3 separate regions of the Homo sapiens genome follow, and regions 2 and 3 are each linked to region 1. The links come from fine-mapping of genetic effects on gene expression. A gene starts in region 1. Each other region holds a variant in brackets. All regions are shown on one strand. Distances are between the middles of the regions. Region 1 holds the start of FAAH (fatty acid amide hydrolase). Region 2 has its middle 26 kb from the start of FAAH. Region 3 overlaps TESK2 (testis associated actin remodelling kinase 2).

Evidence for each region. PIP is the estimated chance that this variant, and not a neighbour inherited with it, causes the effect.
Region 2: its variant is fine-mapped to the expression of FAAH in esophagus mucosa (GTEx, PIP 0.92).
Region 3: its variant is fine-mapped to the expression of FAAH in whole blood (GTEx, PIP above 0.99). The same link has a PIP of 0.9 or more in cerebral cortex, fibroblasts, left ventricle, lung, subcutaneous fat and tibial artery.

What each region holds. Positions count from the first base shown.
Region 1 is chr1:46,393,249-46,396,008 of GRCh38, forward strand. It overlaps FAAH (fatty acid amide hydrolase), which reads left to right and starts at 1,069. Exons shown (of 15, transcript NM_001441.3): 1 at 1,069-1,295. The coding sequence starts at 1,101. RefSeq lists an enhancer at 957-1,470.
Region 2 is chr1:46,418,673-46,421,432 of GRCh38, forward strand. No RefSeq gene overlaps it. Among named protein-coding and RNA genes, the nearest start is that of FAAH, 26 kb to the left of the region's middle. RefSeq lists an enhancer at 1,535-1,584. The variant A/C (reference allele first, on the strand shown) is at 1,596.
Region 3 is chr1:45,478,394-45,481,153 of GRCh38, forward strand. All of the region lies in intron 1 of TESK2 (testis associated actin remodelling kinase 2), which reads right to left. Among named protein-coding and RNA genes, the nearest start is that of TESK2, 11 kb to the right of the region's middle. The variant T/G (reference allele first, on the strand shown) is at 1,380.

The DNA.
Region 1 (2,760 bases):
AGTACCTTACCGGCTCCCTCGGCTTCTTCCTTTGTCTGTGCACAGAGTTGTCTCTGCAGTGTGTGAGGATGCTTTACCCTAGGTTGCCTGCTGGTTTCTTTTCACATTGCTGAGAGCTCAGGTTATTTCTTGCACTGGGTGAGTCCTGATTTCTCACCCCTGAGGCCATCACAAGAGGGTGGGGCATACCTCCTCAGGAGAGAGAACCAGAGACTGCCCCTGAAGGGGAATGTAATCACGAGCAAGCCCCCAAATTGTTATAAATAAAGTTTCCCCCCAGTGCCGCAAAAGAAATAGCACTCGAATATAAAATTTTCTTTTTTTTCTTCTCAGCAAGGCAATTTACTTCTATAGAAGGGTGCGCCCTCACAGACGGAGCAAAGGTGAGCGCACACCTGGACAAGGGAGGGGAAGGTGGTTCTTATGCCTGACCCACGTGATTCCTGATGCTGTGTCCTTCCCCTGTTGGCTAGGGTTAGACCTATAGGCTAAACTAATTCCGATTGGCTAATTTAAAGACAGTGAGGGGGTGAGTGGTTTGGCGGGAAAAATGGTTACCGCAGAGCAGGAAATCGGAATGAACCACGGTGAAGAATGAGTGAGGGAGGAGCAGGTAATCGAAAAATGTTGCTTTATGAGGAAGTTAAGTTTAAAAGTAGAAGGCAAAGAATTGAAGATACTGACATATTGATTCTTTTAAGATAAATTTAGAACTCATATCTAACAGCTGGCATGTCTGGCATGGGGCTCCGGCTGGGGCGCAGTCTTCAGCATTTGGGGCTCTGGGGTGCAGGGGGCAGAGGACGGCCGGGGCTGTGGTGCCCAACCGGTGCTAAACTCAAGCTTGGGAGGTCGCCCACGAGAAACAGTCGCCCTTCCCCACCCGCCTGCTCGGCTTGGCGGGGAGCGGGATGTCGCTGGGGGCGATGCCAGGCGGGCCGCCTCTGATAGCCTCTAGGCTCTGGCGCGCTTCCCCGCCCCTCCCGCGCAGGCGGGCGTGGGATCCCGGCTGATCCAGTCCGGGTTTTGCGGCGGAGCGGGCGGGCTGCGCGTGCGGCGGCTTCAACTGTCGCGGTAGGCAGCAGCAGGCTGAAGGGATCATGGTGCAGTACGAGCTGTGGGCCGCGCTGCCTGGCGCCTCCGGGGTCGCCCTGGCCTGCTGCTTCGTGGCGGCGGCCGTGGCCCTGCGCTGGTCCGGGCGCCGGACGGCGCGGGGCGCGGTGGTCCGGGCGCGACAGAGGCAGCGAGCGGGCCTGGAGAACATGGACAGGGCGGCGCAGCGCTTCCGGCTCCAGGTGACTGCCGGAGCGTAGTGGGATGGGCGCGGCCTGAGGGTACTCGCAGCGGCACTTTCAGCCGCCGGACCCGCCGAGGGACAGGGGATGGGGCGGGCAGAGCAGATGTGTAACTCTCCAGAATCTCTCCTTGCCCTAAGATATTCCGCACTTTCTGAGCCAGGTAGAGCACGGGGGAAGAAAGGAAACGGTAGTGTCAAGGCAGGTGGTGGAAGGCCTTTCCCTCACTGGGTCAAAGAGGAGTTTTGCTTTGTGCCAAAGAATCTCACGATTGCTGCCTATTGGAATGCGAAAACGCAAGCGTGACAACCAGTGGGATGCCAGGGGTTGAGGACTTTGGAATCGCAGAGTGTAATGGCCAAGGGGATCTGGAGAGCTTAGAGTTTTGTTTTTTGTTTTTTTTTGTTTTGTTTTGAGACGGAGTCTCGCTCTGACTCCCAGGCAAGAGTGCAGTGGTGCGATCTCGGCTCACTGCAACCTCCGCCTCCCGGGTGCAAGCGATTCTTGCTGCCTCAGCATCCCCAGTAGCTGGGATTACAGGGGCCCGCCACTACGCCTGGCTAATTTTTGCATTTTTAGTAGAGACTGGGTTTCACCATGTTGGCCAGGCTGATCTCAAACGCCTGACCTCAGTTGATACACCTGCCTCGGCCTCCCAAAGTGCTGGGCGTGAGCCACCGCGCCTGGCTGAGTTCAAGCTTCTTGATTTGTGCATTTGGATCCTAAGAGGGAGCCAGAAAGAAACCTGCCAAGTGCACAGGGAGATCTTGGCAAAGCCAGGCTAGAAGGGAAGTCTCTCTGGCTCCTGCTGTGGTGTCCAACCCCTGGCAAGCCCTTTCCATGAGCAGGTTTAGTTCCAGCCCTCCGTGGGTGGTCTGTCAACAAGCTTTTCTCCCTGCGCTGCCTTTGGATCACCTCAGTATGTGGGTTTGGAGGCGTGGAAGGGCCTGGCTGAGGGTTTGGAAGATGTGGCTTGAAGAGGGGCTTTTCCTCTGGGTGTGTGAAACACTGACCCCAGTTAAAGCCTTCTTATGTGCTGAGAGAGGGAGGGCTTGCTGTATCTGTGGGACCTGACAGGTGGGAAGGCTTTACAGGTTGGGAACCGCAGGACTCAGGAGGGTGTGCCTGGGTGGGAGACAGAAAGAGTCACAGAAAATTGTGTTCAGCAGATGTTCCGCAAGTGATTTTTGAGTTGGGGCAGAGCTGGAACTAGAACCTAGGTGCCCGCTGCACTCTGCAGCCACACTTTCGTGGAGAGGAACAGGAGAGAGATATGAGGAAGGCACCTTGCATGCCAGCCCAGGGTGTAGCCCTGCATGTTGAAGGGGGCCAGCCCCTCCACACCTGTGGGTATTTCTCCTCAGGTGGGACAAGAGACTGAGAAAAGAAATAAGACACAGAGACAAAGTATAGAGAAAGAACAGTGGGCCCAGGGGACCACCGCTCAGTATAGGGAGGACCCGCG
Region 2 (2,760 bases), 25 kb after region 1:
CTGTTTTCATGGCCTTTCCCCTTCTCACCGGGTCCACTGCCACAGCTTCTTTTTTTTTTTCGAGACGGAGTTTCGCTCTTGTTGTGCAGGCTGGAGTGCAATGGCGAGATCTCAGCTCACTGCAACCTCTGCCTACCGGATTCAAGTGATTCTCCTGCCTCAGCCTCCCGAGTATCTGGGATTACAGGCGTGTGCCACCATGCCCAGCTAATTTTGTATTTTTAGTAGAGATGGGATTTCTCCATGTTAGTCAGGCTGGTCTTGAACTCCTGACCTCAGGTGATCTGCCTGCCTTGGCCTCCCAAAGTGCTGGGATTACAGGCGTGAGCCACTGTGCCCGGCCTGCCACAGCTTTTTGCCTCGCTTCCCTGGGCTCCAGACTGGACATCTCCAACAATCTTTCACATGGCAGTTAGGCAATCTCATGCTTAAAATCTTTGGACTCACTTGTGCCAAGTCCAGAAGCCTTGTTATGACCTGCAAGGCCATGATTAACCTGACCCTGCAGCTGGCCCCTGCGGCCTCATCTCCTGCCCTTCCTCAGTGCTCACAGCCCGGCCACGTGGCCTGCAGGTAATGTTCAGAACACCGAGTGATCTCCCGCCTCCACGCCCTTTGCTCTTGGTGCTTGCTGTGCCTGGAGTGTTGTTCCTGGGGTCTCCACCTAAAGACCACCTACTCGTCCAAGGTGAGGGCAATTGCTCTTCCAACTCTGTCAGGCTGTGTTGAAAGAGCTTCTTTGTGCTTCTGCACGTGGTCAAAAGCAAGGTCTGTGTATTAATAGAACCCAACATCTGTTAGGCTGTGGAGTTGAATACCCATTATCTCATTTGGAAAGTGGGCATTACTATTTCCATTTAAAAAATTTATTTATTTATTTATTTTTTGAGACAGAGTCTCTCTCTGTCGCCCAGGCTGGAGTTCAATGGCACGATCTTGGCTCACTGCAACCTCTGTCTCTGGGTTCAAGTGATTCTCCTGCCTCAGCCTCCCAAGTAGCTGGGATTACAGGCGCCTGCCACTGTGCCCGGCTATGTTTTGTATTTGTAGTAGAGATGGGGTTTCACCACGTTGGCCAGGCTGGTTTCGAACTCCCGACCTCAGGTGGTCCACCTGCCTTGGCCAAAGTGCTGGGATTACAGGCGTGAGCCACTGCGCCTGGCCTTTTTTCTTTTCTTTTTCTTTGAGATGGCGTCTTCCTCTGCCACCCAGGCTGGAGTGCAGTGGTGCGATCTCAGCTCACTGCAGCCTCCGCCTCCTGGCTTCAAGCGATTTTCCTGCCTCAGACTCCCGAGTATAGCTGGGACTCCAGGCGCCTGCCACCATGCCTGGCTATGTTTTGTATTTGTGGTAGAGATGGGGTTTCACTATGTTGGCCAGGCTGGTCCTCAACTCCTGATCTCAAGTGATCCGCCCGCCTTGGCCTCCCAAAGTGCTGAGATTACAGGTGTGAGCTACCGTGTCTGGCCCTATTATTTCCATTTTATACATAAGGAAACTGAAGTTCAGAGGGGATTGCTGACTTGTTGAAGGCTGATCATTATGGGTTACAGAGAAGACTTGAAACCCACACGCTCAACTCTAAACTTACTGTG[A/C]CTTCCTCATTTGTACAATCATCACAAGAACATGCATTCAACATTCTTCGGACACCAGCCTCTGTGCTAGGCGACCACAACACTTTGAAGACAGAAGCAGTCCTGTGTACTGTGCACCTCTGCCAATATCTGTTTACAGGAGATAGCTGCCATGTCCCTGTCCACCCTCCCTTTTCTCTCCTGGCGATTGCGATATTGGAGTTTTAGGACACAGCCAGAGCACTTGTCATTTGTTCCTGTTGGACACCATTTTTAGGATTATCCCAAGAGCTCTGGCTGTTTCTGCTCTTCCTCCCAACATGTGCTTATCCACAAATCTGAGCACTGGACCTCTGCAACTTCATCCAAGTCACCCATAAACCTATGGATCACAGCAGACCAAGGAAAGGGCGTGACCTACACCCTTAACAGACAGACACATAACCGAGTTTTGAGCTTCCCAGCCAGATGTATCTTTAGTTCACATTTCTCTGGCTGGGCTTAGCTGGGCCCTCCCAAGTTTCCTACACATAGATTTGGGGTGGCGGCCCTGGGCACCTCAGGAAGGTGAAGCCACTTGGGATCGGGCTGTGTATGCTCAGCACCCAGCATGGTGCCTGGTACTCAGTGGGTACCCAGAGAAGGCTTGTTGAATGGAGCAATGGGTGACTTGTTATTAGGGAACCCATTTTGGTCCATTCTGATTACTTCCTCTTCTCACCTCCAATAGGGAATTTTCCAATCAGTCCCTGACCCTTTGCTCCTTTCACATTTATTGTATCTACCTCCATGATCTTTTTTTTTTTTTTTTTTGAGATGGAGTCTTGCACTGTTGCCCAGGCTGGAGTGCAATGGCAGGATCTCGGCTTACTGCAACCTCTGCCTCCTGGGTTCAAGCGATTTTCCTGCCTCAGCCTCCGGAGTAGCTGGGATTATAGGCGCCTGCCACCACGCCCAGCTAATTTTTTGTATTTATAGTAGAGATGGGGTTTCACTATGTTGGCTAGGCTGGTCTCGAACTCTTGACCTCAGGCAATCCACCTGCCTCAGCCTCCCAAAATGCTAGGAGCCATGATCTTGATTAGTGCCCATGAGGACAAATAATTCCCAGTCTACATTCAACCTATAGCTTTCTCCTGGTCTGTAGATCCTCATCTATCCACTTCTCTCATCCTCTTAACTCCTT
Region 3 (2,760 bases), 910 kb before region 1:
TTCCAGACTATGAGCTCTTTTAGTTCAAGCTAAGGGCTTGGACTCAAACTTACCTTCAAACTATGGCAATACAAAGTATAATACTACAATATTGAGTCAAAATGTACAGTGGAGAAAAAGCAAAATAAATAGGACATCGAGATTCCACATTTTCAATGTAAAAAACATACTCCTTCTTTCATTCACTCAGCCAACATATATTTATTTAGCACCTCTTACGGGCCAGGCACTATGCCAAATCCTGGAGAGATGGTGACGACAATATAGACATACACAGACAAATAATTCTGAGAGGATACAGTCCAAAATGTTAACAATGGTTTTTAACTTTTTTTTTTTTTTTTGAGACAGAGTCTCACTGTGTGGCCCGCTCAGGCTGGAGAGCAGTGGCACAATCTCAGCTCACTGCAACCTCTGCCTCCTGGGTTCAAGCAATTCTCCTGCCTCAGCCTCCTGAGTAGCTAGGATTACAGATGCACACCACCATGCCCAGCTAATTTTTGTATTTTTAGTAGAGACGGGGTTTCACCGTATTGGCCAGGCTGGTCTCAAACTCCTGACCTCACATAATCCGCCTGTCTCAGCCTCCCAAAGTGCTGGGATTACAGGGGTGAGCAACCATACCCAGCCTGTTTTTAACTTTTTGAATCATGGGCAAATTATGAATAATGTGTATCTTCTCCTTTAAAATCTCTATTTTCCAATTCTTCCTTAATGAATATGCATTACTTTTATAATCGCCAAAAAAATTTTTAACATCCTTCCAAAATACAAATTCCTAACAAACAGTAGCAATACAAAACCCAAAGTAAATACTATGTAATGTGAAAGTGAAACAAATGTTGAGAACTTTTAGTCAGATTCTAGTTACACCTAATACAAAGAATAATAGGACTAAGTATAAAAAATACTTTATGATTTCCATAGTGAAATCATTGTGGAAGTCATTGTGAAGAAGATTCCATGAAATTGTCCAAGGAAAACACTGACCACAAGATCAATACCACCCTAGTTTTCCATACTGCAGAAAGAAAAAAAAAATTTTTTTTTTTTGGAGACGGAGTTTTTGCTCTTGTTGCCCAGGTTGGAGTGCAATGGCTCAATCTCGACTCACTGCAACCTCTGCCTCCTGTGTTCAAGCAATTCTCCTGCCTTACCCTCCAAAGCAGCTGTTACAGGCATGCGCCACCACGCCCAGCCCCCCCAAAAAATTATATTATTCTATTTTATTTAATTCAGAGGAAGAGAGAATAGCCTCCACACTTGTTCCAAAGACAAATTAATAAATAACACCATATTTAATCTGTATAATGATTTACAGTTTACAGTTCACAGAGCATTTTGATCTTCACAATAATTGTTTTCTTGTTCCCATCGGA[T/G]AGATTAAAAAAATAAAGGACTGAAATGCAGAAGGCCCTTCTTTTTTTTTTTTTTTTTTTTTTTGAGATGGAGTCTCACTCTGTTGCCCAGGCCAGAGTGCAGTGGCAAGATAGATCTCGGCTCACTGCAACCTCCATCTCCCTGGTTCAAGCCATTCTCCTGTCTCAGCCTCCCGAGTAGCTGGAACTACAGGCGCATGCCACCACACCCGGCTAATTTTTGTATTTTTAGTAGAGACGTGATTTCACCATGTTGGTCAGCTGGTCTCGAACTCCTGACCTCAGGTGATCCACCCGCCTCAGCCTCCCAAAAAGTGCTGGGATTATAGGCGTGAGCCACCACGCCCAGTCAGGCTCTTCTATCTTTTTTACTCAATATCCAAAAGCTATAAAAGAAAAGACTGAGGGCCGGGCATGGTGGCTCACACCTGTAATCCCAGCACTTTGGGAGGCCGAGGTGGGCGGATCACAAGGTCAGGAGTTCGAGATCAGCCTGGCCAATAGGGTGAAACCCCATCTCTATTAAAATATAAAAATTAGCTGGGCGTGGTGGCACACACCTGTAGTCCCAGCTACTCAGGAGGCTGAGGCAGAAGAATTGCTTGAACCTAGGAGGTGGAGGTTGCAGTGAGCCAAGATTGCGCCACTGCACTCCAGTGTGGGCAACAGAGCAAAACTCAGTCTCCAAAAAAAAAAAAAAAAGAAATCTCACTTCTGTGAATTTATCCCACAAATATCCTTGCACACATATAAAATGACACATTCAAAGGCCCTTTTTACAGCATTGTTTATAATATCAAAACACTGGAAACATAAATGTCCATTATAAGGAATTAGTTAAATAAATTATGATACATCCATTCAATGGAATACTATGCAGGTGATTAAAAAGAAAATAATAATAATAATAAATGAATAAATAAATAATATATATATAGGCCACAGTGGCTCACACTTGTAATCCCAGCACTTTGGGAGGCCAAGGTGGGTGGATCACCTGAGGTCAGGAGTTCGAGACTAGCCTGACCAACATGGTTAAACCCCGTCTTTACTAAAAATACAAAAATTAGCCAGGTGTGGTGGTGCACACCTGTAATCCCAGCTACTCAGGAGGCTGAGGCAGGAGAATCACTTGAACCCGGGAAATGGAGGTTGCAGTGAGCTGAGATCGCACCACTGCACTCCAGCCTGGGTGATGAAGTGAGATTCTGTCTCAAAAAAATAATAATATATATAACCAAAAAAAAAGAATGAGGAAGCTCTCTATGTACTGATCTGGAAAGGTCTCTAAGATATATAAAGTAAATAAGCGGCCGGGCCTGGTGGCTCACGCCTGTAATCCCAGCACTTTGGGAGGCCGAGGTGGGCGGATCACGAGGTC